Linked DNA regions of Homo sapiens. The protein of the gene in region 1 purifies or fractionates together with the protein of each later gene. This does not show direct contact. Each region holds a gene or a part of one and is shown in the gene's direction. Other genes may lie near its edges.

Evidence for each region.
Region 2: the proteins of CYRIB (region 1) and LGALS9 purify together in Homo sapiens (co-immunoprecipitation; one large-scale study listed by IntAct). This does not show direct contact.
Region 3: the proteins of CYRIB (region 1) and PPME1 purify together in Homo sapiens (affinity purification with mass spectrometry; one large-scale study listed by BioGRID and IntAct). This does not show direct contact.
Region 4: the proteins of CYRIB (region 1) and PPIL3 fractionate together in Homo sapiens (co-fractionation; one large-scale study listed by BioGRID). This does not show direct contact.
Region 5: the proteins of CYRIB (region 1) and TALDO1 fractionate together in Homo sapiens (co-fractionation; one large-scale study listed by BioGRID). This does not show direct contact.

The regions. Positions count from the first base shown.
Region 1 is NC_000008.11:129,854,654-129,860,644, reverse strand, and holds part of CYRIB (CYFIP-related Rac1 interactor B), read left to right. Parts: intron 1-4,897; coding exon 4,898-5,034; intron 5,035-5,991. UniProt on the Homo sapiens protein: Negatively regulates RAC1 signaling and RAC1-driven cytoskeletal remodeling. Regulates chemotaxis, cell migration and epithelial polarization by controlling the polarity, plasticity, duration and extent of protrusions.
Region 2 is NC_000017.11:27,640,009-27,645,999, forward strand, and holds part of LGALS9 (galectin-9), read left to right. Parts: intron 1-563; coding exon 564-765; intron 766-2,229; coding exon 2,230-2,340; intron 2,341-3,516; coding exon 3,517-3,612; intron 3,613-3,824; coding exon of another isoform or gene 3,825-3,950; exon of another isoform or gene 3,951-4,027; intron 4,028-5,305; coding exon 5,306-5,341; intron 5,342-5,852; coding exon 5,853-5,903; intron 5,904-5,991. UniProt on the Homo sapiens protein: Binds galactosides. Has high affinity for the Forssman pentasaccharide. Ligand for HAVCR2/TIM3. Binding to HAVCR2 induces T-helper type 1 lymphocyte (Th1) death.
Region 3 is NC_000011.10:74,246,548-74,252,538, forward strand, and holds part of PPME1 (protein phosphatase methylesterase 1), read left to right. Parts: intron 1-531; coding exon 532-576; intron 577-3,598; exon of another isoform or gene 3,599-3,775; intron 3,776-4,406; coding exon 4,407-4,471; coding exon of another isoform or gene 4,472-4,711; exon of another isoform or gene 4,712-5,083; intron 5,084-5,100; coding exon 5,101-5,168; intron 5,169-5,866; exon of another isoform or gene 5,867-5,991. UniProt on the Homo sapiens protein: Demethylates proteins that have been reversibly carboxymethylated. Demethylates PPP2CB (in vitro) and PPP2CA. Binding to PPP2CA displaces the manganese ion and inactivates the enzyme.
Region 4 is NC_000002.12:200,870,579-200,876,569, reverse strand, and holds the end of PPIL3 (peptidyl-prolyl cis-trans isomerase-like 3), read left to right. Parts: intron 1-5,048; coding exon 5,049-5,175; 3' UTR 5,176-5,663; downstream 5,664-5,991. UniProt on the Homo sapiens protein: PPIases accelerate the folding of proteins. It catalyzes the cis-trans isomerization of proline imidic peptide bonds in oligopeptides. May be involved in pre-mRNA splicing.
Region 5 is NC_000011.10:756,041-762,031, forward strand, and holds part of TALDO1 (transaldolase), read left to right. Parts: intron 1-2,909; coding exon 2,910-3,017; intron 3,018-4,081; coding exon 4,082-4,213; intron 4,214-5,991. UniProt on the Homo sapiens protein: Catalyzes the rate-limiting step of the non-oxidative phase in the pentose phosphate pathway. Catalyzes the reversible conversion of sedheptulose-7-phosphate and D-glyceraldehyde 3-phosphate into erythrose-4-phosphate and beta-D-fructose 6-phosphate.

The DNA.
Region 1 (5,991 bases):
TTCTTAAAAAAAAGTAAGACAGTTGCTGTTTTTCCTTTAGATGCAGTACAGCCTGTTAAATGTAATGTTAAGACAGACAGTAGTTTGGATAGAAATATTGTATAAATTATCTTTTTCTTACTGGAAATAAGAATTGTAATTTATTTTCCCAATTTTAGTATTAGTTATTTTACAGTATTTGTCTTTCAATCAAGAGTCTCTATAGTTTGTAGCTTTGCACTTTATAACCCAATCAGCCTAGGTTTTCTGTCTTGGTTGTCTTCTCTACTATATACAGCTTTTCTTACGCTGGTTTCTGGCTGCATTTATAGTTAAATTGCTTTTGATGGTGCTCAGATGCTATTCAAGCTCATCTTGGTCTTTTAGCATATCCCAATACACAAAGAATAATTGTAAAATAGGCCAAACTAGTTGGACTTAAGTGTTATATTTTTACCATGGGAATTAATCGGTCTCGTGGTGTGTGTCCCATCATGGGTGCTATTCCAGCACAAACAGCACCATGGAGCAGCATGCAACTATGAAGACACACATGATCCTTCAGAATCTTGCAGTTCTAAGGAGAAGGTTTCTTGGCCTGAGCACTACAGATACACCATGGGTTATACTTCAGAAGAAGGACCCTGATCCCTTGCCAGTTTGCATACTTACAATGGGACAGGGCAAGGATTACCTGCTTAATTTGAAGATACTCAGTTTTGCTGACAGGGTTTAACTACACTGCCCTGGTAAATGTGGGCGGCAAGCCACCCAGGTGCCGAGGCAAGAGACCGAGGACACGAGTTGTTCCAGTATAATAAAATATGAAACAAGAATAGTTATACCAGATATAGATCTTAGATATGATTACATATGAATATCATTAATCATTAATTGGTACAATTACTCTTTATTCCAATATTATAATAATCCTCGCTCTATAATCATAACCTAGGAAAAGCCAGGCCATACAGAGATAGGAGCTGAGGGGACATAGTGAGGAGTGACCAGAAGACAAGAGTGCGAGCCTTCTGTTATGCCCAGGCAGGGCCACCAGAGGCCTCCTTAGTCTAGCGGTGACACCAGCGTCTGGGAAGATGGCCGTTGCCAAGCGGACTGTGGTCTAGCGGTAGCCTCAGTGTCAAGGAAAAACACCCGCTACTTAGCAGACTGGGAAAGGGAGTCTCCCTTTCCCCGGGGGAGTTTAGAGAAGACTCTGCTCCTCCACCTCCTGTGGAGGGCCTGACATTAGTCAGGCCCACCTGCAGTTATCCGGAGGCCTAACCATCTCCCTGTGATGCTGAGCTTCAGTGGTCGCGCTCCTAGTCCGCCTTTATGTTCCATCTTGTACACCTGGCTCTGCCGTTTAGTTAGCAGTAGCAAATTAGTGAAAGTACTAAAAGTCCCTGATAAGCAGAAATAATAATGTAAGCTGTTTCGCTCTTTCTCCTCTCTCTCTCTGCCTTGGCTGCCAGGCAGGGAAGGGCCCCCTGTCCAGTGGACATGTGACCCATGTGGCCTTCCCTATCATTGGAGATGGCTCACACTCCTTATCCTGCCCCTTCGTCTTGTATCCAATAAATATCAGTGCAGCCTAGCATTCGGGGCCACTACCGGTCTCTGCGTCTTGGTGGTAGTGGTCCCCCGGGCCCAGCTGTCTTTTCTTTTATCTTTGTCTTGTGTCTTTATTTCTACACTCTCTCGTCTCTGCACACGGGGAGAAACCCACCGACCCTGTGGGGCTGGACCCTACAGTAAACTTGCCATACTTGCTTGTTCTGTACTTGCTTGTTTTGTTCTGAGGCCTTGGAGCCCCTCCTGTTGAGGCAGATACCTAAGGGAAGGTTGTATGGTCAGGTAGTAGGACAAACTGCTTTGTCTCCCCTCAGTCTTGCTCATGCTTTAGGGGCTTACATTAGGGACTGCCTCCAAGGGTCATAATAAGTCCCTTCAACATGTTAGCTTCGTTTCACTGGGCAGAATTTATCAAAATGTATTTTAAAGGCCCCAAATGCCCACCGTTAATTGTGGTCATGACTCTTGGTTGTCTTAAATCCTTTAGAATCCATGTCCTCAGGTTCTCTTCTGAGAGTTTGAGAGTAGATAGATGGCAGTTGATGAGAATAAACGACTGTTGTCTCTATAGGGAAACTCTCCCCAGGGGCCTCCTCTTCCTAATCAACTAGTTATTCTTCCCTGTCCTAGCTTGTGGACTGATTTGTCATCTTTATCATTCCTTCTAGTTGTCTTTTCCTTGCAACCTCCTTCTGTGGTTTTGGCTCCTGCACTCATCTGCCAGCTTCCTTTGGTTCTTCCAGAACTTAGGGCTTAATAGACTATTAATTTTCTCCTGGTCATCTGCTTTTTAAAAAATCATAATCTCATGGTTTTGTTTTAGGAGCTTCATCTGAGTCCAATCCCAGGCATCTTTTCTTTGTCCTCTCTTTCTCTCCAACTCATCCAGAGACCTCTGGGACATTTTCTGTGGGATTGTCTCCAGTTTCTCTCTTGAGACAGAGCATTGTAGGCTAGTAGGACTGACTTGTGCCAGCACAGGCCTGCAGGGTGAGGCTGATCTAGCTGCTTCAAAGGCAGATTAGCAGATTTATCATCTTGAGCTTCCCTTTCAACATAGATCTACCATGGAGGGCCTCAGCCATTCATAGACAAAAGTTCTGCAACTACTGGTCACTGACCATCCCAACTTAGTCAAGCGACCTGACTCCAGTCCCAAAAGTGGTAGAGAACTTGGAATGCTGAAATTAACCCTGAGACTTGATAAAGTCTAGGCAGATGCATTTTTCTTTTTTTCTTTAACAGACTATAATAATATTTTGTAAAAATGTTTTTTTCTGTTCGGTGTCTCTCTTACTTAGTTTTCCAGTTAACACCAACAGAAAGAATGAATCTTGGGAGAAGTAAACCATTTTTAAAATATAACCCAAAATGTTTGACTTTTAATTGATCTTCTTCACATCCACTGTTACACCTTGATACACCATCCATACCCCTATAGTCCATGCTCCACACTGCAAATGAAGTAGCATTTTAAAATGCGAATCTGCTGACGCCACTCCTCTGCTTAGATGATTTCTCTAGGGACATTAGGATGCCAAAGCCCGAGTACTTAATGTGGTCCACAAATTACATGTGTATGAATCATCTTAGTCCTGGTTACCCTCCTCCTTGCCCTCTGTGCTCCTATATTGGTGGTGTTGCAGTTCCTCAAGTATGTCATGCTCTTCTCAGTTCAGGGTCTGGCTTCCTGCCTTTCTGTCTGCAAACTCATGTTCATCCTTACTACATACTTCAGTCTCAGTCCAGGAGTCATTTATTCAGGGAGATCTTTTCCTGGGCCTTCCATTAGGTGAGGTCTTATTTTTATACCTTTCCACTGTACTTATTTTCAGCACATATCACAGCTGTAATCATTTGTCTGTCTTCTCTCTATATAATAAGGCTCCATATGGGCACAGGGAGCATGTCTGTCTACATCCATTTTCCCAGTGCTTGGCACAGAGTAGCCAGTCAGTACATTTTCAGACTTACTGGAAAAAAAAGGATAATAGCTGTCATTTAGAGTTATTACATGGATGAGAAATAATGTCTGTGAAGAAATAGTTCAGTACCTGGTATCTGACAGACACACAGGAAGTACCTACTATTGTTTTTAATCAGTAGATTAATGTTTTGTAGGGTTACAGAAGTAATTGGTACTATTGGTAGTAATCAGGAGGTTAATGTTTTATAAAGTTACAGAGGCTACGTACAATGTTGCTTTATTTCAGAGACAGTTTATTGTGGTAGAAAGAATAGGGCTTTGGAGTCAGAAATACCTAGCATTTACTAGCTATAACTTTGGGCTCTAAGTTCTTTGAAACTCATTTGATCCATCTGGAATGACCATGTCATAGTTGATGGTAAAAATCAAATGGGAGACTATATTCAGTGTACAGTAGATGTTGACTCATACGTAAATCTTCATAAATAGGAAAACTGGGGTTTTTTTAAAGTTACGGGCTGATGACCTGACATAAAGTTTTAAATTTATCATTAATATTTGTTTGTTAATCTGACATTTATTAACATCAGATCATAGTTTAACTCTGTAAGCTCTTATTTTCTCTGACCAGAATCTAGCAGCATTTTCCAGTTCTGTGATCTGTAACTGAATTCATTTGATTTCTATGGCTTTTTGAAATATTGAAATGAAATATTAGTATTTAGTATTTAATATTAGTATTAGTATTTAGTATTTCCATTATCAAACATGGTATTTATTAGCCTGGCATCCCAAAAGTAGCACTTATTTCAAAGGGACCATTTTGCTCACATAATGAATTAGAATATTTATATTGTAGTCTTGAAATGTCAAGTTCTAAGACAAGAAGCTTATTGAACCACATATTTTGTTCTCTTTAGTAGCTGAAAGCAAACAGTTTGTGGTTATAAATAAAGGATGTATTCAAAGTATGAGAAATTGGTAATTGATTCATAGGCATATACAGACAGTGTGGACACAGTGCCATTGAAGAAAGTTACTCAGCTGTAGATAATAGTTACCATTTCATAAAACCAAATTCCACACTGTGTGAAGTGATTAAAGTAATATAAAACTTGCCCTTTGGTGTTGAATTCAAATTCACTTCTGCACTATTTTCAATCTGGGTTTACAGAATTATAAACCCTTGAATTAGTCCGTTTAAGGTTTTTATTCTGTTAAATAGTATTCAGAATGTGTGTAGTACATTAGCAATGGCAACATTTAAACTTCTTAATTAGTTTTATTATGTTTAGATCATCTGTTTTTTAAAGAGAACTTTTCTGGGAATTAACATTTATGAATTGTTCACTTTTTAATAAACAAATATCACACAGATACAAACAACTTAATGTTTTTTTCAATTTTTTTCTTTAGAAGCAGCATTAAGAGGTCTTCTGGGAGCCTTAACAAGTACCCCATATTCTCCCACCCAGCATCTAGAGCGAGAGCAGGCTCTTGCTAAACAGTTTGCAGAAATTCTTCATTTCACACTCCGGTTTGATGAACTCAAGGTAGAATTATCTATTGGCCCTGATTGTTACGAAAATCATGAATCTTTTAATGAGTACTAGGAGGAAGAGCCGGGAAACATTGTTAAAATGTATTTAAATGATGTCTGCTAGACCTTAATAAAAATGCAAAGCTGGATTTAGAAATTAATGACGGGTCTTTTGATACATGGCAAAGAGCAAATTACTGAGTATTCGGTCTCAATCTTTTTTTTTTTTTTTTGAGGCAGAGCCTTGCTTTGTCACTCAGGGTAGAGTGCAGTGGCGTGATCTCAGCTCACTGCAACCTCTCCCTCCTGGGCTCAAGTGATTCTCCCACCTCAACCTCCCAAGTAGCTGGGATTACAGGCATGTGCCACCACGCCTGGCTAATTTTTGTATTTTTAGTAGAGACGGGGTTTCACCATGTTGGCCAGGCTGATCTCGAACTCCTGACCTCAGGTGATCCACATGTCTCAGCAGTCTTCATTTAACCTTGTTTAAAAATTAATCTCCGAAACAAAAGGTTGAGCTTTTTTTCTAATACTTTTTCTTTTCTGCTCACACCCTCTACCCCCGTTTTTCAACATTCTTTTATATTAAAATGTTGCTAAAATTTCTTTTTTCTCCCTTCCTCCTTTCCCGCTTTCTTCCTTTCTTTCTGTTTCTTTTTTCCTCTGTCATTGTTTATAGTGTTTGGAACTATAAATACCTTGTTGTTAAAAAGAATGAATGTAAAGGAATAAGCACTAGGTCTCATATCAAGAGACCTGAGTTCCAGTTTATACTCTGCCACAGTAACCCTAGTCATGAGACGTTGGGCACGTCCTTTGATTTTTCAGGGCCTCTGGTACCCTGTCTAGAAAATGGAAGAGCTGGATTCCAAACTTCAGCATTTTATAGTTGTATCACAGTCAGATTTGTATGTAAAATTCTAGTTTGAGGATTGCTCTGTTGACCATACCTACATACTTTTATCGT
Region 2 (5,991 bases), on another chromosome or scaffold:
TACAGGCGTGAGCCATCATGCCCAGCCAATTTTTTTTTTTTTAACTAGAGATGAGCTCTCACTATGTTGCCCAGGCTGGTCTCAAACTCCTGGGCTCAAGTGGTCCACCCGCCTTGGCCTCTGCGCCCAGCCCCAATTTCACATGCTCTTTACATTTGTTCTCTTCTTTCCCATTTAATCAGGCATGTGCTGGCCTCCAACAAGTGTCCACTGGCACAGAAGGCTCTCTCTTCTAGGTGTGCTTAACAACTTCCATCTTCGGTATCAATTGGTAATCACTTTCCAAGACCTATGTTTCTTGTTTGCTAATACCAGCACTTTTCCTTAACCGTTTTCTATTTGCTTTTAGCAAATCATGCTGTAAAGGCAAAATCCAATAATTAAAACAAAAACACATTAGATCCCAATTAGAAAAACAAAAACGATGCCAACAAAGCAGTCTCTGCCATACAGGTTGTGTGCAAGATCCAGACAAATGCAAAGCACAGGCGCCGAGGCCCTCCTGTGCCTGTCACTGGCAATAATCCATGCCACAGAAGACTATTTGCTTTCCCTGGGCCTAGGTTTGCTGTGAACTTTCAGACTGGCTTCAGTGGAAATGACATTGCCTTCCACTTCAACCCTCGGTTTGAAGATGGAGGGTACGTGGTGTGCAACACGAGGCAGAACGGAAGCTGGGGGCCCGAGGAGAGGAAGACACACATGCCTTTCCAGAAGGGGATGCCCTTTGACCTCTGCTTCCTGGTGCAGAGCTCAGATTTCAAGGTGAGCAAGAATCCCCTCCCCACCTCTCACCCCTGGGACCCCCAGCCCTATCAGGTGAATGGCCTTTAAGTAATCACCTAAATTGACATTCAGCCAGAGTGACACCACTATACAGATAACACGCTCATTTCCTTGTGAGGTGTTACCCATGGCTGCCTAGTCTCCTTATGCACCTTCATCTGAATCTACAGGTGCACCTGCTGCTTCTTTTACTCTGAAAATAAGAACTAGAGGAGTCATCACGTTGCTATTTGGTGTTGTGTGTCTTTGAATTCCAAGCTCATTCCATTCCTCTGCTATAGCCATTCCTCCTCTCCAGGTCACTGGTAACATTTATTTTTCAGCGACATCGTTCCAGCCTTTATCCAGGGTCTATTAAGGGTATAGTTTTGTAAGCACATTGCAAATTACCCTTGCAAGCAGAGTAGGTCTCTGGGCTTGAGAAGCCTGTGGGTAAGTCAGTCCAAGTATGCTTATCTGAGATAAGGATGTCCCCATTCGTTCAGTATGCAACCTGAGGTCACCTCTCCTCTGCTCCCCATGAGCATTTTATGCATATATAAATAATACCGCTGCAGCCATAAAAAGGAATGAGATCATGTCCTTTGCAGGAACATGGATGGAGCTGGAAGCCTTTATCCTTAAACTAACGCAGGAGCAGAAAACCAAACACCACATGTTCTTACTTATAAGTAGGAGCTGAACGATGAGAACACATGGACAAAATGGGGGGAAACAACACACCCTTGGGCCTGGTCGGAGAGGGAGAGCATCAGGAAGATTAGCTAATGGATGCTGGGCTTGATACCAAGGTGATGGGTTGATCTCTGCAGCAAACCACCATGGCACCCGTTTACCTAGTTAACAAATCTGCACATCCTGTACTTGCACCCTGGAACTTAAAATCAAAGTTGAAGGGGATGGAAATGGCAGATCACGCCTATAATCTCAGCACTTTGGGAGGCTGAGGAGGGCGGATCGCTTCAGGTCAGGAGTCCAAGACCAGCCTGGCCAACATGGTGAAACCCCATCTCTACTAAAAATACAAAAATTAGCTGGGTATGGTGGTGGGCTCCTGTAATCCCAGCTACTCGGGAGGCTGAGGCACGAGAATCACTTGACCCACTGCACTCCAGCCTGGGCGACAGACTGACATTCCATCTCAAAAAACAAAAAAAAACAGTTGAAGGAAAAATAAATAATTAATAAATGAAACCCCAGGTGAGCTAAGACTAGAAAGACAAACCTACTGCAGGAAACAACCAGAAGAACGAAAAGTCCAACTGGAGCCTGGTAGAGACTCGGGTTGATGCACTTTGGGTCACACACACGTTCCTGTAACTGGCCCCACACTGAAGACCAGACTCAGGTCTTCATTTTCTAGAAAGAGGGTCCAGGAGCTCAGGGGTGGTCCCCATCCCAGCCTGGGATGCCTCCCCCAGAACATGTGCTCTCCTCTGGCAGGTGATGGTGAACGGGATCCTCTTCGTGCAGTACTTCCACCGCGTGCCCTTCCACCGTGTGGACACCATCTCCGTCAATGGCTCTGTGCAGCTGTCCTACATCAGCTTCCAGGTCAGACTGTCCACCTGGCACCGGTCCCAGGGGCTGGGATGCAGGGCCCAGCGTAGCTGTGTCTAAGCCCTGCTGGGTGGGCCCAAGCCAATCTCCTACCCAGGTCACTCTGGGGACAACCTCTGCTTCCCTGTCCCAGTACCTGCCCGCCCCTTCTCCTCTGTCACTCTGCCCCTCCTTCTGTGTTACTGTCTCTGTCCGGAACACCTGCCTTGGTCTCCCAGACTCCTCAGCTGCCCCTTTCTCTTCATCCCTCAGTTTCCATCCTGGTAAGGAGGGCATATTGTTCTAGAAAGAGCCCAGGCTCAAGAACCAAACTGAATCCAGTTCAAATTCCCAGCTCTGCCATTCATCATCTGTGGGATCTTAGACAAGCAACTTCACCTCTCTCAGCCTTGGTTTCTTCATCTGTAGAATGGTCATTGCCTGCCCCCCATGGGTGGTTGTGTGGTTCAGTGAGGAGACAGATATCAGAGGTCACACAGTGGCCCCCCTGGGCCCACACCAGGGTCTGTTTGACCTCTGTGTTTTAACAACTTTGAATGTGTTGCCAACATCTAAAAGGTCAGGAGAGTCAGGTATGGTGGTGGAGGTCTGCAGTCCTGGCTACTCAAGAGGCTGAGGTGGGAGAATTGCTTGAGCCCAGGAATTAGAGTTCTGTCTGGGCAAAACAGCAAGACCCTGTCTCCAAAAAACTTTGTTTAAATAATAAAATAAAATAAATAAAACTAAATAAGGTCAGGAGATACCAATACCATGTGAAAAATGGGAAGATTAGGGTATGCTGGGCCCACATTCCCACAGGGCACCAGCAGCTGGGTGGGAGCTGCTGTTACCCTTTTGGCATTCGAGGCTGCTCCCTGAGATCAGCGAAGCACACAGTAGGCCCTCAGCAAATCTGGGCTTCTCGCCCTTTGGTCCTCATCTCTCATTCCCTCCTTCCCTGACTCTCTCCCCTGCGGGTGGTAGGGGAGGGAAGAGCTGGAGGGAGACCGCACCCCTGCACTGCTCACCAGAGCCTGGCTCTTTCCCATCCCATCTTGGCAGGGCCCTAACCCCCTTGCCTCATCGCCCTGCCTGCCTGGTCTCTCCCTCTTGCCCCTGCCTCTGCCTTTCGGCTTCTCCTTGGCTCTATTAATGCTTCTCCTCACTGCCCGGTGCCTTTTGTTTTAACAGAACCCCCGCACAGTCCCTGTTCAGCCTGCCTTCTCCACGGTGCCGTTCTCCCAGCCTGTCTGTTTCCCACCCAGGCCCAGGGGGCGCAGACAAAAAGTGAGTTCAACACAGAGGCCCTGGGTGGCCGAGCAGACAGTAGGAAGGACCGAGGGTCTGAGAGGCTGGCCCCAGCCAGCAGGCCACTCAGGGCCTACAGGCCGCATCTTGCCCACCCAAGAGTTCCCTGTCTCTGTCCGCTGGGCACCCAGAGCTGGGGACCTGGGGGTCACCCTGGATTCTTCACTCCCTCTTCTTTACGTCTCTCCAAGGCACGAACGTGTCTCCCTCCTGAAGCCACCGATGTGGTCCAGGCCTCTGGGATTCCTCACCATGACGACAGGGGTCCAGTTCCCCACCCCCTACACCCAACCACTGCCACAGTGACCTTCTTATAAGCAAATGTGATCACACCCTCTCCCTGCTTAAAAATCTTCACAGCCCCCAGCCCTTCAAATAAAGCCCAAATTCTCCAGCAGGGTATATGAATTCCTCCCCAGTCTGCCCCAATCCACGTCCCTGCCTCACCCCCAACCCACGAAGCTCACGCAGCCTCTGCAGCTCACTCAAGGCCCTCTTGGGCCACCATGCTTTTGCATATGCTGTCCCTGGTCCCGGAAGCACCCTCTGCCAGCCTGCCTCGAGCACATGCCTAATTGCCCTTCCATGCTCTGCCTAAGTGCCGCTCCTCTGGGAGTCCTCCCCGCCTGGAATATTGTTGGACGCTCCCCTGGTGTCCCCACAGAGTCTGTATGTATCTGTGCCATGCCAGTTCACAGCACCCCATTGTAACTGTATTTGCGTGTCTGTCCCCGTTACTCCACCCCCATGTCCCTATGCCCATGAGGCCCCAGAGGGCCAGGACTGTGGCTTGTTCATTTGCACTGTGCCTGGCACTCAGTAGGGACTCAGTGAATGAATGTGGAATGTGGTTCACACAGCCAGGGAGAATGGGATACCAGCCAGGGCAAGAACAGTCTACTGGGTGGGGCAGGATCCAGGACAAGGAGGTGAGCAGCCCTTCCTCCGGCCACTCAAGTAGTGGGGACTGGGAGGAGGGGCGCTTTGTCTACGCAGTCTTCTTATGGCTCATCACCGTACAGACAGGGCACCTGCCTCCTGCCACGCTGACTTCAGGACTGGTCGAGCCCCAGGGAACATTTGCAGGGCAGCCCAACTTTGGCCCTGGCCCTGGCGCTGGCCCTGGCTCTGGGGAGGATAGAAAGTGTGCTGGATACAGTCAGACAGAACTGGCTGCCACTTTGGATTTGATCCCTTCCACCTTGGCAAGCTTGGGCAAGTTGCTTAATCTTTCTGAGCCTCGTTGCCTCACTAGGGACACAGGAGCTGAGGCTGCTTCCCTTGTTGGAAAGCACTGAAGCCCAGGAATCGACCCACAATAGGCCTTCAACAAATACCACTTCTCACCTTATGGGTGAAATATGGCACTGGAAGTAATGCTCTTCGCTGTGGGAGCTACAGAAAGCAATGAGGTCTCTATCAAACCCAGTCTCCTCTCTCTCGAGAGGAACCAGTGGGGATACCCTACCCCCCAACCCCAAAGCCCTGTACACCTGGGGGTAAAAATCTGGGTGCCACGGGCTCAGGAAGGCTTGCTTGGGAGCAAGAGGGAGGTGGGTGTGTCCGGGGAGGCATTTCTGAGCACAAGAGCCTCCCTGGAGTTTTGCCACCATCTCCTCCCATTCTGTGGTGCCCGCGATAACCACCATTCTGACTCTCCTCACCCCTCCAGCCTCCCGGCGTGTGGCCTGCCAACCCGGCTCCCATTGTAAGTCTCTTGCTTTCTTTTTGGATCGTCCTCATTTTGGCTTTTCTGGGCTCATGGAGGAGGCAGGGCCAGGCATTGGGCCTCTCCCATTGGGAGTGGGGAGGGCACAGACCAGACCCTTGACCATCTGCCCGGCCTGGTGAGGTTGGGGGTTGGATGTGGGGGTTGGATGAAACAACCTGAGTTGCCACCCCGTGGGCAGCCACGGAAGACCATGCCCCACATTCACTTCTGTCACCTGCAAAGGGAGGCTAGGCTGAGAGACGTTTCCCCGAGAGGAAAGATGGGCCAGAGCCACCAGCGTCCCCATCTGTCTTCTCCAGGGTTCTAACCTTTGCCCCTCGCTCATCCCCTTGAGAGAAGAGACACCTGGGCCCACCCTCTGTGGGGTCTGTGGGGCCATTGGGCTTGTTACGCCCCCTGGAGGGTGCCTGCCGTGTGGCGCCCTCTGGTGGGAGCTGGTGGTTTTCACACGTGAGAGCCTGGGTGAGACCTGGTTTCTTTCTTCCAGACCCAGACAGTCATCCACACAGTGCAGAGCGCCCCTGGACAGATGTTCTCTGTAAGTCTACAAGTTCTGGTCAGTTCACAGCTGCACAGTGTCCTCCTTCACCAAAAACTAAACTCCCTAGAGCCCTAGAGTCGGGAAG
Region 3 (5,991 bases), on another chromosome or scaffold:
TGGGGCTTCAACATGAGTTTTAGGGGGACACAACTCAGTCCATAGCAGTGTTGGTATATTGTCATCTCAATATGACCTCATTAAAACTTCTCACCAAATGAGTAGTGACATCCAAAGTAGAGTACCTTCCTCATTCATCTATGCCTTTTCTCCTCCCCACACCCAGTCTCTAAACCTAACTAAGCATAAGCATTCATCTAAGCATAAAGGATGACCTAATTCTGGCCTGGCCTGTCTACTTGGTCAAGCTCAAGTCCTTCTTAGTCTAGAGCTAGATGCAGTGGTATAAGGATATTCTGATTATTATGAGAATTAAAATAGTAAAACCTTGTTTTCAGAACCAGTTTAACATAGTAATTATAGGGGAATCTCAACCTGAAAAGTTTTATCTGGTGGTGAGAGTATGCTCTGGGAGTTAGGATTGGTATAAACATGAATGGAGAATGTCATCATATTTAAAACTTTGTAACACTTTTTACTTAATACGTGAACAGCAAAATCTGTTTCACAATGAATTCTCTTGTTTTCTAGGTGTTGATAGATTGGATAAAGATCTGACCATTGGCCAGATGCAAGGTAAGTTATCAAGAAATTATACCCCTGGACCCTTTTCTGAAGAAAGGGTGATAGGGCAGTTAACATCCTGAGATAGTGAGGTATAACGGAGAAAGCATGAGCTTTAGAGTCCGACCCAAGTTGGACATCCGCCTCTACTCCTAACACACTATATGATTATGGGCAAGTATTTCCCTTTCCTGAGCTTTAATTTGTTTAAAAAAAAATCCATCCAAAAATGAAGATTATAATACTACTACCTATGTCTCAGTTATAAGAGTTAAAATGAGGCAATGTGTTTAAAAATTATAAAGTACTGTATAGGTGTATGATACTGTGAAAAGAGATATTCTGACTACTGATCAGTTTTTTGTTTGTGGGTTTTTTTTTTTTTTTTTTTTTTGAATTGGAGTCTCACTCTGTTGCCCAGGCTGGAGTGCGGTGGGACCAATCTCGGCTCACTGCAACCTCTACCTCCCAGGTTGAAGCAGTTCCGGGCCTCACCCACCCCAGTAGTGGGATTACAGGCATGCACCACCACGCCCAGCTAATTTTTGTATTTTTAGTAGAGATGGAGTTTCACCATTTTGGCCAGGCTGGTCTCAAGCTCCTGACCTCAAGTGATCCACCTGCCTTGGCCTCCCAGAGTGCGAAGATTATAGGTGTGAGCCACTGCAGCTGGCCAGTATTTTTCTTATTGTTAGAAGTTTTAGGAAAGGGAAAGGCTCAAGATAATCCAGATATAAAAAGGTATAAATACCTGTTTAGAAGACAGCATGGTAAGATGGTAAAAGTAAGGTCTCTGAAGTTCGGAAAACTGAGTTTTGAATACTGCTTTTCCAGTAATTTTTTGACTCTGGGCAAGTTATCTGACTTGCCTCAGCTTTAGTCTTCTTAATCTGGAAAATGAAAAAACTGATGGCAGCCTCAAACAGATCGTGGGGTATAATGAGTAGGAAAGTGACATGCTGAGCACTGTATACAGATGCATGTATGTTAGCTAGATAACAGTGGAGGCAGCGGGTCCAATTTTGTGGGGGCTCTTGCTTTAGTACGGGTAAAAGACTCAGTGAAGGTGAAGCCAGTAGGCATACAACTTTTGGGTTATGGGAAGAAGAGGTGCCAACTCCAAGACCAAAGTTTCAGGCTCAGGCAGAATCTGTTCTAGACCTTTCTTCCCTACTTACTCTCCCTGGACAATTTCATGGCTTCCATTTATATATTGATGACTCCCAAAGCTAAACATCCACCTCACCCCTCTCTCCTGAGATCCAGTCCTAGCCTATGTAGCAAACCTGCTGGATATCTCATGGGCCTCTCAAACTGTTCTTTTAGCTATCCTCAAGCTTTCCACAGCAAAAGGAGCTATATTCTCTCATAATAGTTGTTCAAAGGCTCTCACATATAAAACTCTGGTCCCAGACCTTCATGGCTTTGCCTTCCTTTAACTACATTGTATCCTGAGGCCTAGAATAGGACTATGAGCTGGGACTGTGTGATTTTTTTTCCATGGCACTGATGTTGGTAATTATGGGCTTAGACACTTATTTAAGTAGATGCTTATAAATGTCTAAGCCCGTAATTACCAACATGAGTGCCATGAAATTGAATCTAAGACACTTAAGTTCAATTCAAGAAACCTTTCCTAGGCACCCTTTCTGTGCAAGACCTATGCATGATGCTGGGCAGACAGAAGAATCAGATATGGCCCCTGAGACTGCCTGAAGGCAGTTGACATGGACTGGGATAGCATTTGAAATCATTGTTGATCACCAGCCTTGGAATCAGACAATCCTGGGTTTGAATCACTGTTAATAGTTTTGCGGTATGAGTGAATTCCTAACTTATTTAATTTTGAGTTTCTTCATCTGTGAAATGGAGATAATGATATATCTCAGTACAGTTACATGAAGTTTAAATGAAAAAAATGCGGGTAGTCTAACAAATGATGCCTTTCATTATATTCAGGAAGTAATCACGATTCCTTATGAGATGTCCTCCTGTTTCCTCAATATGGATTATATCAAGACCACCTTCTGGTTTAAAGAAAGCCTCCTATGAGTATAGAGAGTAAATGGCGAGGATAAGGAACATTCCACAGAACAAAGGGAAATGGCTAAGGCTGCATAGATTCCAAACCACAGCTTTGCCAGCACTGTGTTCAAACCAACTGACTTAGTTATGAAATCCTGGAAAACTACCACCTATTCATAGTACCCCTTGGGTAAATAATTTAGGCTCTCTGAACCTAAGGCTCCTAATCTGTGCAATGGGAGAGAAGAGTTTGGAAATATTCCCACCTCATAGAATAATCATGAGGATTACCCATGAACATGTTATTTTATGTGTACCTGGCACAGTGTTGTTGGTGTATGTGAGTTCTCTCTGATTATACCTACTCTTCCAAAGAGGAAGGACAAATGCGTCCCTAGTCATCAGAGCTGATCTAACAGAAAGAACAGGGAGATTGGAGTTGTAAGTTTTGGATCTAGTCATTTGTTCATCATTCATTCGCTAAAGACTTAAGCATCTACTCAGTGCCCTACCCTGTGTTAGGTCTTATTAGGGATATAGAGCAAGTAATAACACCATTGTCCCCTGTTCTTATGGAAATGACACACTCCTGGGGAGGCAAGCACCAGTGGCATGTAAAATGTAAACTTACTTGAAACTTACAAGAGGGCCATGTGCTGCTCTGTGTTTGGATCCAAGTGCATTAACAACTTTAGGAGCTAGAAGGGAGAGGTGACTAGGCTTGAGCACCCAGAGAGAGGCAGCTTACTGCAGGAGGAGGGGCACAGGATGGACTTTACTAAATGGGATCATCTTATTCCTCCACTAATTAATGAAGTGGCCTTGGGCAGGTTACTTCACTAATCATGGCCTCAGTTTCATCATCTCAGAAAAGAATTTCAGTATTTTTGTGCTTAATTGTATAGGGTAGATTTTGAGAATCAACTTTAAAAATGGATAGAAGAATACACTGAAAACTTTTGAATCCTGCGTAACTGGGGTAAGAACCACAGGATGTAATGACCAGAAGAACTTTCAAGCCCATTCCTTTATTTTATAAATAGAGAATCTGAGGCTGAGAAAATCTGCTGTCTCTACTTATGGGGGCTCTGGGTCTCATATCCTTTAGTCTCCTTAGGGATCTTCTTTATCAGTCATCGCTGTTCATTCTCAATCATTGTCGCATTAGTTACGAGCTTACAGTGTTCTGTAAGACAGTATGAGAAAGTGCTTAGTACAATGCCTGGCACATGCTTAAGTGCTCAGATGGTAACTTATTATTGTAATAATACATTTTGAATCCTTAACATAGCTTACAAAATCCTTAATGGTTTGGCCCCTGCTTACCTCTCCAGCCTTATTGTTAACCACTCTCATAAGCACCATGCCAAGCTTCTTGTATTCCAAGCCATTTCAAGCCTTCCTTCCTTCCTGGTTCCCTCTTGGATTGTGAAGTTCCCTTTCTTATGCTCTTACAGCCCCATGTAGCCAGTTTTATCATAGGAATGACATGCTGCATTAAAATGTTGGTTTTTGTGTTTTACTCCCCTACTGGACTGTAAATCCCCTGAGGACAAGAACTGTTTCTTCTATGTGTCTCTGGCCCACAGTAAATGTACACTAAATAGGACAGAAGGAAAAAGTGAAGGGAAATGATTGGCGCAAGGTTACAATTACTTGTATTACCATCCTCAGCAAGACTTGATAATTGGGTCCAGAGTATTGAGGTGAGGTTGGAAATGGGGAGGTAGGTCCTGGGCTCCTGGAATGACCTATGAGGCTGCATAAGAGAGGGCTCTTTTAGTCGCTGAAGTTGCCTTGCTTTGATTCCTCTCCAGGGAAGTTCCAGATGCAGGTCCTACCCCAGTGTGGCCATGCAGTCCATGAGGATGCCCCTGACAAGGTGAGTCTGGTGCTCAGTGACTGTAAAAGGACAACTGTGAGAATAACCCTGGATGTCACAGAAGACAAGTCTCTGAGTCTCAGCCTGCATTGCCTGCAGCAGCTGCTGTGGAGCCTATGCAGATGCAGTTCCACCAGCTCTCCAACTTCTCCCTGGCAGCTGCTTATGGTATTGGTTTTGTGTATATGTGCTGAGGAGCTACTGACACTCTGCTATTTCATCCCAGGGCCCTGTGGTTAAGATCTTAAGCTCTACTTCTCCAATACCCCCAAAAGCCAGAGATGGAAGAGGGATGATTAGGGTAGAAACTGCTCCCTAAACCACAGGCACAGTTAGGAATTAATATGGGCTCCTCCTGTGAGAAAACACCATTCTGTAACTCTGAGGGCACACATAAGCCCTTCACGTCATTCCTCTTGAGCTCTATGGAGCTATCCCTGGCAAGGATAGTGGGGAGGAGTCTTCTAGCTCTGCTAGGGAGGGCCTAGGTCCTTTTAATTTCAAGCCACTCAGACCTGTGGGTGGGATGAGGGCACCGTAGAGCCTAACCATCTAACAGTAGCTCACAGCCCAAGGCTAAGCCCCATCACTAACCTTTATATGGCCTGGAATATCTCTCCCATTTCCAGGTAGCTGAAGCTGTTGCCACTTTCCTGATCCGGCACAGGTTTGCAGAACCCATCGGTGGATTCCAGTGGTAAGGCGGGTACAAGGGTTTAAGAACCCAGCAGTGCTGGCCGAATCTGACAAGCAGACACTTGTAGGACTGTAAATATCTCTGCCTTACCCCTGCCTGGTTTGGTCACCATGCCTTTCTTCCTCCTCCTCAGTGAAGAGCCTGGCATGTCTGTTTCTACAAAGCCATGGTTGGTTGTTTCTTTGTGCTGTGCTCCCACGGGTTGATGCTGAGGCTGTGATTAAATTGTGCCTAGTCTCACTCCCCACTGTGATGTGCATTTCTTCTTGAGGTGCCCCTTTGAGGAGGCTGGGATAGGAATCAGTCCTTTTCCAGGCTCCTAGAGAAGTTTTCTTTGGCTTCTCCTGCCCTGCTGCCAAGGAAAGCTGGGCAGGCCATGGAGCAGGGCTTTTTTTTTTTTTTTTTTTTCTTGGCACAGTCTTGGTTCACTGCAACCTCTGCCACCTGGGCTCAAGTGATCCAGTGCCTCAGTCTCCCGAGTAGCTGGGATCACAGGCGTACGCCACCGTACCCGGCTAATTTTGTTTTTTTTTTTGTTTTTTTTTTTTTTTAGTAAAGATGGTGGTTTCTCCATGTTGGCCAGGCTGGTCTTGAACTCCTGGCCTCAAGTGATCCACCCGCATCGGCCTCCTAAAGTGTTGGGATTATAGGGATTATAGGCACAAGCCACCGCGCCTGGCCTAGAGCAGGGTTTTCTACAGTGTTGCACAGTGTCTTCCCATGGCCAGCTACTAAGCAAGCTGGGAATGGAATGGGTGCCTCTGCCAGGCTTGCTTCCCCTCCCTTTCCGAAGCTGGCAGAATATTAGCCACTCTGCAGGGGT
Region 4 (5,991 bases), on another chromosome or scaffold:
CTCCAGCCTGGGCGACAGAGTGAGACTCTGCCTCAAAAAAAAAAAAAAAAAATGAAAAGAAAAGAAAGAAAAGAAGAGTGGTGTGAGAGCTAAACGTACCTGGAGTTTAAGTCTACCACTTAGCAACCCTGTGACCTTGGGAAAGTTATAATCTCCCTGAGCTTTATTTTCCTTATTTTGTAAAAGAGGCCAGTAATTTTTCAATATTGTTATGCAAATTAACATAGTATATCTATTTTCTTTTTCTTTTTCTTTTTTTGAGACGAAAGGCTCTGTCGCCAGGCTGGAGTATGGTGCAGTAGCACAGTCATGGCTCATTGCAGCCTCAACCTCCTGGTCTCAAGTGATCTTCTCACCTCAGCCTCTTGAGTAACTGGAACCACAAATGTGTACCATCATGCGCAGCTACTTTAAAAAAAAAAAAAACAAAAAAAACACTTTTTTTTTAGAGACATGGTCTCACTATGTTGCCCAGGCTGGTCCATTTTCATTAATGATAGCATTTCACAGCAACTAACAGATCTGAAAAATAGTGGCTTAAACAAGATGGACTGGCATGGTGGTTCCATTTTGTTACCAGTGTTCTAGGCGCCTCTGTCATAATATTGGCAGCACAGCTCTTATCAAAACTTCTGTGTATCAGGGAGGAAAGGGGAGGAAAGACAAAAGGTGCTTGCCAGCTGATTCACCTTTTTTAATTAACAGAACTTTCCCAGGCCTGTAATCCCAGTGCTTTGGGAGGCTGAGACAGGAGGATCACTTGAGGCCAGGAGTTCAAGACCAGCCTGTGGAACATAGCAGAACCCATCTCTATAAAAAAAATTTAAAAATTAGCCAAGTGTGGTGACACACACCTGTAATCCCAACTACTCAGGAGGCTGAGGTGGGAGAATCACTTGAGCCCAGGAGTTCCAGGCTGCATGAGCTGAGATCACACTTCTGTACTCCAGCCTGGGCAACAATGATACCCTATCTCTAAAAAAAAAAAGATAGAAAAAAAGAAAAGCCGGGTGCGGTGGCTCACACCTGTAATCCCAGCACTTTGGGAGGCCAAGGAGGGCAGATCATGAGGTCAGGAGATCAAGACCATCCAGGCCAACATGGTGAAACCCCATCTCTACTAAAAATACAAAAATTAGCTGGGTGCGGTGGTGCGTGCCTGTAATTCCAGCTACTCAGGAAGCTGAGGCAGGAGAATGGCTTGAACCCTGGAGGTGGAGATTGCAGTGAGCCAAGATTGCGCCACTGCACTCCAGCCTGGTGACAAAGCGAGACTCCGTCTCAAAAAAAAAAAACTTTCCCAGAAGACCCAGAACTTAGTAATGTGACCACTCCTTACCTACAATGGAGGGTAGAAAATGTATTTCAGCCACATTGCCACCCTTACTAAAATTAGATTTCTCCGAGTAAGAAGAATGGCTCCTAGGAAGGTATTTCACAGTTTCTGCCAGGGTATCTATTAAGAGTACTATGTCTGGGAGTTGCTTTTATAAATCAGTGGGAAGTCAATTTGTCTGTTCGTTCAACAAATAATTATCATGCTTAATAAACCAAGGCACAATTCTAGAGTTTGTTCTATTTAATAGTTTGGATGCCAAATTAGGTTAATTAAAAATAGAGGACTCCCAGTCTAGGTAACATAGTGAAACCCCGTCTCTACAAAAAAATTTAAAAATTATCCAGGTGTGGTGGCTCACACCTATGGTCCCAGCTACTTGGGAGGCTGAAGTGAGAGGATTGCTGGGCTCAGGGTGTCAAGGCTGCAGTGAGATCTAGACAGATCTTTTCTTTTTCATTCCATATACATGTATCTAATTTACACATTAATAATAATCAAGGAGAAAAGAAATATTACAACATCTAGTAGTTTTTTTATGTTTGTAAATAACCCAGTTTCCCTCTTATTTTCTCCCTTAACCAACATCATTCAAAATTATTGTTCAGTTATTACCAGGACTCATTTTACTGGATTTGCGACAAAACTGTAGAGTTTAGAACAAAGATTAACCTTAGGTTCATTAATTCCTTGTTTGTTGTATACAGATGCACACACATTTTTCTGGGAAGATGATCCAGTAACTTTCCTCTAGTTCTCCAAGGGGTCCGTTTCCCATATACTTGACTCTACTTAACTGCCTCAGTTCTACCTGCTGGGTTTTTTTAACTTTTTACCTGAGACCTATGTTTTCTACCTCCTCTGTTTCTCTTACTGACCTAGAAGGTGGGATAGCCTTTAAGACTTATAATTTAAAGACTTAAATGTCTATATTTAGGGGTAAAATCAAAATGTTTTGGTTGAAGTACCCATTTTGTGAAAATGCAAAATAAAATGCAAATCTGCTAATTTTTTTTTTTTTTTTTTTTTGAGACAGAGTCTCACTCTGTCGCCCAGGCTGGAATGCAGTGGCGCCATCTCAGCTCACTGCAAGCTCACCCTCCTGGGTTCACGCCATTCTCCTGCCTCAGCCTCCCAAGTAGCTGGGACTACAGGCGCCCGCCACCGCGCCCGGCTAATTTTTTGTATTTTTAGTAGAGACGGGGTTTCACCATGTTAGCCAGGATGGTCTCAATCTCCCGACCTCGTGATCCGCCCGCCTTGGCCTCCCAAAGTGCTGAGATTACAGGCGTGAGCCACTGCGCCAGGCCTACAAATCTGTTAATTTTTTAAAGTACATACCAGTGGTTGAGAATCCCTAATCTGAAAATTAAAAATTAGGAACTTTTTGAGCACTGACATGATGCCACAAGTAGAAAATTCCACATCTGACCTCATGTGACGGGTTGCAGTCAAAATGCAGTCAGATGACCAGGTGCAGTGACTCACGCTTGTAATCCTAGCACTTTGGGAGGCCAAGGCGGGCAGATCACGAGGTCAAGAGATCAAAAGCCACTCTTTCTTAGCAAATGTTTTAGACTGAAATTTCCAAAACTTGTATTTGAAGAATAGCTCTCAATATATTTTTTCTTGGTGGTAACATGAAGTGGGATTGCTGGAGGCTGTTAACTGTCAGTCTTCTCTTCTCCTATTTTTATTACTTCTTGTTGTTATCCAGAAGCAAAAAGTAGAAATGCCATAATTAGGCCAGACGTGGTGGCTCATGCCTATAACCCCAGCACTTTGGGAGGCTGACGTGGGCAGATCACTTGAGGTCAAGAGTTTGAGACCAGCCTGGCCAATGTGGTGAAATCCCATCTCTACTAAAAACACAAAAATTAGCTGGGCATGGGGGCATGTGCCTGTAGTCCCAGCTGCTTGGGAGGCTGATGCAGAATTGCTTGAACCTGAAGGAAGAGGCTACAATGAGTCGAGATAGTGCTACTGCACTCCAACCTGGGCAATGGAAGTGAGACTCCATCTCAAAAAAAAAAAAAAAGAAAGAAATACTATAATTAAACAATTAACTGCTGGGCTTGGTGGCTCATGCCTGAATCCCAACACTTTGGGAGGCCAAGGCGGGCGGATCACCTGAGGTCAGGCCAGACCAGCCTGGCCAACATGCTGAAACTCCGTCTCTACTAAAAATACAAAAATTAGCCAGGCGTGGTGGTAGGCTCCTATAATCCCAGCTACTTGGGAGGCTGAGGCAGGAGAATTGCTTGAACCCAGGAGGAGAGGTTGCAGTGAGCCGAGATCACACCATTGCACTCCAGTCTGGGGGACCAGAGCGAGACTTCATCTCAAAAAAAAAAAAAACAAGTACAAAGTGGAGTGGTCACCTACTTTAGGACTCTCATTGTAGGGCAGTATTGCTAATAGTGTCATCTACATACTTTCTCCATGTATTTCCTGTAGCAAAGAAATCTTTATGACTAGTGTGTTGTAATAAGACATACATATTTGGACTTCATCCGTGGTTTCCAGCATAGTTCTTTTAAAAACCTTGCAATTTCCTGAGTGACAGGAGTGAAAGGAATATTTTATTGTTCATAATAAACCCCATTCAACCATACCTGAGTTTATGCTAATGAGGTGACTCTTGGTGGGGTTCTAGATAGCTTCAGTATGGAGGGCTGGTTGCCAGAGGAATCAGCCATGTATTTTTAGAGGGGTGGAACATTCAGTGACCTCCTATTCTTGACCTCTGGGAAGGAGAGAAGGGCTGGAGATTGAGTTCCAGTCACTAGTGGCCAGTGATTTAATTAATCGTGCCTACCTAATGTGCCCTCCGTAAAAACCCTAAACAGGGTTTGAGAGCTTCCAGGTTGGTGAACACAAGTAGATACTAAGAGGGTAACACACCCCGAGAAGAGCATGGAAGCGCTGTGCCCCTCTCTCAGACTTTGCCCTATGCATCTCCTCCATTTGGTTGTTCCTGAGTTGTAACCTTTATAATAGCCCATAGTAATAAATAAAGTGCTTTCCTAAGTTCTATGAGCCATTTTTGAAAATTATTGAACAGAGCTGGGGGGCATGAAAAATCCCAAATTATATCATGGTTAGTCAGATAGTACAGATCACAATCGGGACTTGGAACTGGCATCCGAAGTGGTAGGGGCTGTCTTGTGGGATTAACCGGGGTCTCTGTTCACTCCTTGTAGTTAGTGTCACAATTAAATTATAGGGCCAGGTGTGGGGGCATGCATTTGTAGTCCCAGTGAGATCCTGTCTTTAAAAAATTAAATAAAATTTTGAAAAAATAATCAAGTTGTGGGATACCCAGAGAATTGGAGAACTGGGAAAACCCACACATTTGGTGTTGGAAGTATGAAAGTGTAGAAAAACAGTTTGTTTTCCCTTTAACTGGTTATATTAGTCCCATTTGTAGCTGTTCTCTGTCACTGTATGAATGGGGTAGAATATAATTTTAGGTACTATGGTGGAAATATTCCTACCCTTTGTATTGTTGACTAAGGGCATAAAAGTAAATTATTTCTGAATTTTGATCCATATCTATGATGGAAAATCAACATTTTGTTGTACATTCAACTAGAGAACTCAGAGATCTGTAAGACTTGATTATTTTTTAAGGAGACTGTAATTGTCATAGATATGGATATCATGTTTCAATTTAAGGAAATTTTCATATGTTATGTTGTTTCTCTTTCAGGGTAATAGATGGTCTGGAAACTCTAGATGAGTTGGAGAAGTTGCCAGTAAATGAGAAGACATACCGACCTCTTAATGATGTACACATTAAGGACATAACTATTCATGCCAACCCATTTGCTCAGTAGCTATGATAGACCTGGACAAATAACTTGACAAATTGCTGGAACACACTTATTGTGGTTTACCCGGTTTTAATTATGTCAGAGATTGCATCATCCTTCTGCTTGTTTACAACTATGATCTTCTATGAAATGGTGGTACCAAGGGGCGCCCAACAGCTTTTATCCCCATTCTTAGAGCATATTCTTTATTATAATGATTATCCAACATATTTCTTTAATTTTAATACAAAAAATACATCATTTAATTTTTGTTACATATGAACATTCATTTTTAAATGCTCAGCCTCAAGTGCAGGCATTTTTGAGTGGCCTGATTACATATTCCTCCCACAGCAAGTCCGTATCCTGGAAGTGTTATTTTATAATAAAATTTAAAAAGTTTTAAAGAATTAAATCGTAGGACAAATTAATTAAAATATTGTGTAAAATTACCTTCAGGCTATGTGTATAAGGTATATATGAAACGTAAATGAACTTCATGTTTAAATTTGGGTCTCATCTCCAAGATATCTTATTATGTATATGCAAGTATCCCCAAATCTGAAAATTTGGGTATTCCTGAAACTGATACTAACGGTAAGAGCTCTACCATTAATTATTCACTTTATACAGTTAGAAAGAGGAGGGACAGGATAAAAAGTTAGTCTGGAAAGGCCAGCCAATCCATTTGCTATTTTCTCTGATTTTTTTTTTTTTCTTTTTGAGACGGAGTCTTGCTCTTTTACCCGGGCTGGAGTGCAGCGGGTCACTGCAACCCCTGCCTCCCAGGTTCAAGTGATTCTCCTGCCTCAGCCTCCCAAGTAGCTGGGACTACAGGTG
Region 5 (5,991 bases), on another chromosome or scaffold:
CGTGCTAGTCTAGTTGGCCTTGCTTCCCTCCCTAACTGAATTTTAGTTCTCAAACACCATGAACTCAAGGGGGGAAAAAAACCCTATCTTTTTGCCTATTTTTGTTTATTGAAGTGTAATCTGCATGAAGTAACCTGCACCTGTGGTAAATGAGCAGTTCAGAGAGTTTTGCCAATGTGTGTACCCTGTAAATACCACCCCAGTCAAGATGCAGAGCACTTGCAGACCCCCACAGGCCCCTCCTCCCCTCCTGTAGTCAGTCTCCCCAGCTCTGGTAACACTTACCTTCTGGCTGTCATTTTATTTTTTACTTTTCAGACGGAGTCTCGCTGTGTCACCCAGGCTGGAGTATAGTGGAGCAATCTTGGCTCACTACAACTTCCGCCTCCCTGGTGCAAGCAATTCTCCTGCCTCAGCTTCCCAATTAGCTGGGCTTACAGGTGTGTGCCACCACTCCTGGCTCATTTTTGTATTTTTTTTTTTTTTTTTTTTGAGACAGAGTTTTGCTTTTGTTGTCCAGGCTGGAGTGCACTGGCACAATCTCGGCTCACCGCAACCTCTGCCTCCCAGATTCAAGCGATTCTCCTGCCTCAGCCTGCCGAGCAGCTGGGATTACAGGCATGCGCCATCACACCTGGCTATAATTTTTGTATTTTTGGTGGAGACAGGGTTTCACCATGTTGGCCAGGCCGGTCTCGAACTTCTTACCTCAAGTGATCCACCTGCCTTGGCCTCCCACAGTGCTCGGATTACAGACGTGAGCCACCGTGCCTGGCTTTTTAATTTTTTAATAGCTTTTATAACTCCCAGAATGTTCTCTGGTACCTGTTTGCAGTAGCTCCCCACTCCCTTACCCAACCAAGCAACTGTAGAGCCCTCTTCATGCCTGTGGCTTTGCATATTTTAGATGTCATTTTAGATTCTCTTCAGGGTAATAATTCAAAGCTTGAAGATGGTGCCGAGCAGGCAACGTGGGCACCACACAGGAGCAGGTCCCTCTCTGGTACTGGCTTTGCTTAGGTCCAGGTGGCTGGTGAGTGGCTCCCCTGACCATGTTGTGACAGCCACTCTGGACACTGAGTCTGACCCTCTCCTCTCTCTTCTTAGCTCCCTTTTCCTCATCTCGTGGTGTTGCACCCCTGTGGCATCAGTGAGGCCTTGGTGCTCCTGTTATTGGGTGACATTGGTGCCTTTGCTTGGCTGGGTGATCAACAGATGAGCCCTGCACCCATGTCCAGATGGCCCCAAATTTTTTTTTTTTTTTTTTTTTGAGATAGAGTTTGGCTCTGTCACCTAGGCTGGAGTGCAGTGTCACAATCTCAGCTCACTGCAGCCTCTACATCCTAGGCTCAAGCCAGCCTCCCACCTCAGCCTCCCAAGTAGCTGGGACTACAGGTGCACGCCACCACACCTGGCTAATATTTGTATTTGTTTTTAGAGGCAGGGTTTCACCATGTTGCCCTAGCTGGTTTCGAACTCCTGAGCTTGAGCAGTCTGCCCACCTTGGCCTGCCAGGGTGCTGTGATTACAGGCGTGAGCCACTGCACCCAGTCTGGCCCAAGAATTCTAACCTCTGAGCGTCTAGCTGAAGATCTTCCTGTGTGTAGTGGGCTAACAAGGCTGCTCAGATTTTGGAACAGAATCATGGACTTCACTGGGTGTCTGTCCAATAACTTTGAAGAGATAGAAAATATAATATTTTGCAAGTGCCAAAAGATAGAGGGATGCAGTTTGGGATGATGAAAAGAGCTCTGGAGATGGATGGTGATGGTTGTACAGAACTGTGAATGTGCTGAATACATTTTAAAATGGTGGGCTGGGGGCAGTGGTGCACGCCTGTAACCCCAGTGCTTTGGTAGGCCAAGATGGGAGGATCCCTTCAGCCTAAGAGTTCGAGAACAGTCTAGGCAATAGGGCAAAACTCTGTCTCTACAAAAAAATATAAAAATTAGCTGGGCATGGGCCAGGCGTGGTGGCTCACGCCTGTAATCCCAGCACTTTGAGAGGCCAAGACAGGCGGATCACGAGGTCAGGAGATCGAGACCATCCTGGCTAACACGGTGAAACCCCGTCTCCACCAAAAATACAAAAAAATTAGCCGGGCACAGTGGCGGGCGCCTGTAGTCCCAGCTACTCAGGAGGTTGAGGCAGGAGAATGGCGTGAACCGCGGGGGGCAGAGCTGGCAGAGCCGAGATTGTGCCACTGCACTCCAGCCTGGGCGACAGAGTGACACTCCATCTCAACAAAACAAAAAAATTAGCCAGGTATAGAGGTGTGCAGCTGTAGTCCCAGCTACTTGGGAGGCTGAGGCAGGAGGATCACTTGAGCCCGGGAGGTCAAGGCTGTAATGAGCCATAATCACACTACTGTGCTTCCAGCCTTAGCTGGAGACCCTGTCTTGGGGGAAAAAAAAAAGGATAAGATGGGAAATTTTATGTTATATGTATTATTTGGCCACAATAAAAAAATGTTTTAAGAGAAAAAAAAAGATGGAGGGAAGGAAATTTGGCAAAGAAATAACAGAATTTATTTTGTAGAGTCTTGTGCACTTGAACCTCAGAAGCTTCTTTTTTTTTTTCTTGAGATGGAGTCTCGCTCTGTCGCTCAGGCTGGAGTGCAGTGGCACGATCTCTGCTCACTGCAAGCTCCACCTCCCAGGTTCACGTCATTCTCCTGCCTCAGCCTCCCTAGTAACTAGGACTACAGGCACCCGCCACCATGCCCAGCTAATTTTTTAATATTTTTAGTGGAGACGGGGTTTCACCGTGTTAGCCAGGATGGTCTTGATCTCCTGACCTCATGATCCGCCCACCTCGGCCTCCCAAAGTGCTGGGATTACAGGCGTGAGCCACCGCACCTGGCGAACCTCAGAAGCTTCTAACCTGCTTTTTTTCCCTTTGAATTTCAGGTCACAAGAGGACCAGATTAAAAATGCTATTGATAAACTTTTTGTGTTGTTTGGAGCAGAAATACTAAAGAAGATTCCGGGCCGAGTATCCACAGAAGTAGACGCAAGGTAAGGATGCTTGCTCCTGCACTGGATGGGCTGGTCAGGTGTCCACAGTTGCACACGTGGATGCCAACATGAGGTCAAGGGGCTGCTCCACCCATGGTCTTCATCCCAAGGGCCCAAGAGGAGGTTTATTTTGAGCTCTCCCACAGTTGGTAGTGATGACCAAGAGCTCCTTGTTTAGCAACTGATCTCTAGTGTTTTTTATTTTTATTTTTATTTATTTTTGAGATGGAGTCTCGCACTGTCACCCAGGCTGGAGTACAGTGGCGCAATCTCAGCTCACTGCAACCTCTGTCTCCCGGCTTGAAGCGTTTCTCTGCCTCAGCCTCCCAAGTAGCTGAGATTACAGGCACCTGCCACCATGCCCAGCTAATTTGTTGTATTTTTAATAGAGATGGGGTTTGACCATTTTGGCCAGGCTGGTCTTGAACTCCTGACGTCATGATCCACCTGCCTCGGCCTCCCAAAGTGCTGGGATCACAGGCATGAGCCACTGTGCCCGGCTGCTAGTGTTTTTTGTTTTGATTTGTTTTGTTTGTTTTTTGAGACAGAGTCTCGCTCTGTTGCCAGTGTAGAGTGCAGTGGTGTGATCTCAGCTCACTGCAACCTTCACCTCCCGGGTTCAAGCGATTCTCCTGCCTCAGCCTCCCAAGTAGCTGGGACTACAGACACCCGCCACCATACCCAGCTAATTTTTTTGTATTTTTAGTAGCGACAGGGTTTCACCATGTTGGCCAGGATGGTCTCGATCCCTTGACCTTGTGATCTTCCCGCCTCAGCCTCCCAAAGTGTTGGGATTACAGGCGTGAGCCACGGCACCTGGCCCAGTGTTTTTTAATACAAATTATAGCCTATGGATCCCACTGAGGACCTCTGTTTGTGAGACTGGGTGTGAGTTGCTGTCAGAGCCATTCTGCAAACCTCCAGTGAGGGGAAGGTTGAGGGCAGTGGTTGGTGCTCACGGTGGTGCTGCTCAAAACTGACAGGCAGACACCCGGCCTCCAGCTTGCTCTGCGTGGTGGGCAACCTGCGTGATCTGAGGGGATGGGTTCTTCTTGCTCCTACAGGCTCTCCTTTGATAAAGATGCGATGGTGGCCAGAGCCAGGCGGCTCATCGAGCTCTACAAGGAAGCTGGGATCAGCAAGGACCGAATTCTTATAAAGCTGTCATCAACCTGGGAAGGAATTCAGGCTGGAAAGTAAGTGGTCCCCCACAAGGAAGGAGCTCTCAGAGATTTTTCCTCTGTTGGAGCAGGGTCTACATGGCATCAGGCAAGTTTGACTCTCTCAGCCCTGGGGAATGCCAGACTGGGGAGCACAGCCCACAGCTTGGACTTGACCAGCTCATGTCAGCCTAGATCTGCCCTCTGCTCCAGAGCCAGCTCCCTCACTTGCTGGTGATCAGAAATGAGGGATTTCCCAGGAAGTACCATCCACCCACTCAGCAGAGAAGAAAAGCCACTAGTTAGCACCTGCAGATTCAGATTCTGTCCTTCCTCTGTCCTGATCAACACAAGCCTATGTTTACATGATTTTTAAAAAGTAAACTATTGTTATATAAAATATATGCTGGCTGGGCAAGATGGCTCATGCCTGTAATCCCAGCAATTTGGGAGGCTGAGATGGGAGGATCACTTGAGCCCAGGAGTTCCAGACCAGCCTGGGCAACAAAGTGAAACCTTGTCTCTACAAAAATATAAAGAAATTTTAGGCTGGGCACGGTGGCTCCCAGCACTTTGGGAGGCCGAGGCGTGGGGATCACGAGGTCAGGAGATCGAGACCATCCTGGCTAACACGGTGAAACCCCGACTCCACTAAAAAATATAAAAAATTAGCCGGGCATGGTGGCACACACCTGTAGTCCCATTTAGGAGGCTGAGGCAGGAGAATTGCTTGAACCCAGGAGGCGAAGGTTGCAGTTAGCTGAGATCACACCACTGCACTCCAGTCTGGGTGACAGAGCAAGACTCTGTCTCAAAAAGAAAAGAAAACTTTTAGGCCGGGCACGGTGGCTCATACCTGTAATCCTAGCACTCTGGAAGCCTGAGGTGGGTAGATCACCTGAGGTCAGGAGTTCGAGACCAGGCTGGCCAAGATAGTGGAACCCCGTCTCTACCAAAACTACAAAAAATTTAGCTGGGCGTGGTGGCAGGTGCCTGTAATCCTAGCTACATGGGAGGCTGAAGCAGGAGAATCACTTCAACCTGGGAGGTGGACGTTGCAGTGAGCCGAGATTGCACCATTGTACTCCAGCCTGGGTGACAGAATGAGACTCCATCTCAAAAAAAAAAAAAAAAAAGAAAAGAAAAACTAGCCCACCCCTGTGATTCCAGCTACTTAGGAGGCTGAGGCGGGAGGATCGCTTGAGCCTGGGAAGTTGAGGTTCCAGTAGCTATGATCGTACCACTGCACTCCAGCCTGGGTGACAGAGTGAGACCCTGTCTCAGAAAAACCAAACCAAACATATGTACGTTCAGAGTGGAAGAGACAGAAAATGTATAAAACAAAGTAAAACTCCTCTATGATGTTCTCACCCAGAAGCAGCCAATGCTATACTCAAATAATTCGCATCAGGAAGAGGTGTTTTGTTTCCACATCTGTGTGTCTGCATGTTCTACCACCTGCCATCACTGACCTGCTCTGAGATAGCATCTCACTTTTTCACCACGGCTGGAGTGCAGTGGCACGAACTTGGCTCACTGCAGCCTTGACTCCAGGCTCAAGCTATCTTTCCACCTCAGTCCCCCAAGTGGCTGGGATGACAAGCACACATACCACTCCTGGGTAATTTCACCACGTTCCCCAGGCTGGTCTCGAACCCCTGGGCTCAAGAGATCTCTACCCATCTTGGCCTCCCAAAGTGCTGGGATTATAGGCATGAGCCATTGTGCCTGGCCTCATTTGTGTGTTTTTTTGTTTTTTTTTGTTTTTGAGACGGAGTTTCATTCTCGTCCATGCTGGAGTGCAATGGTGCTAT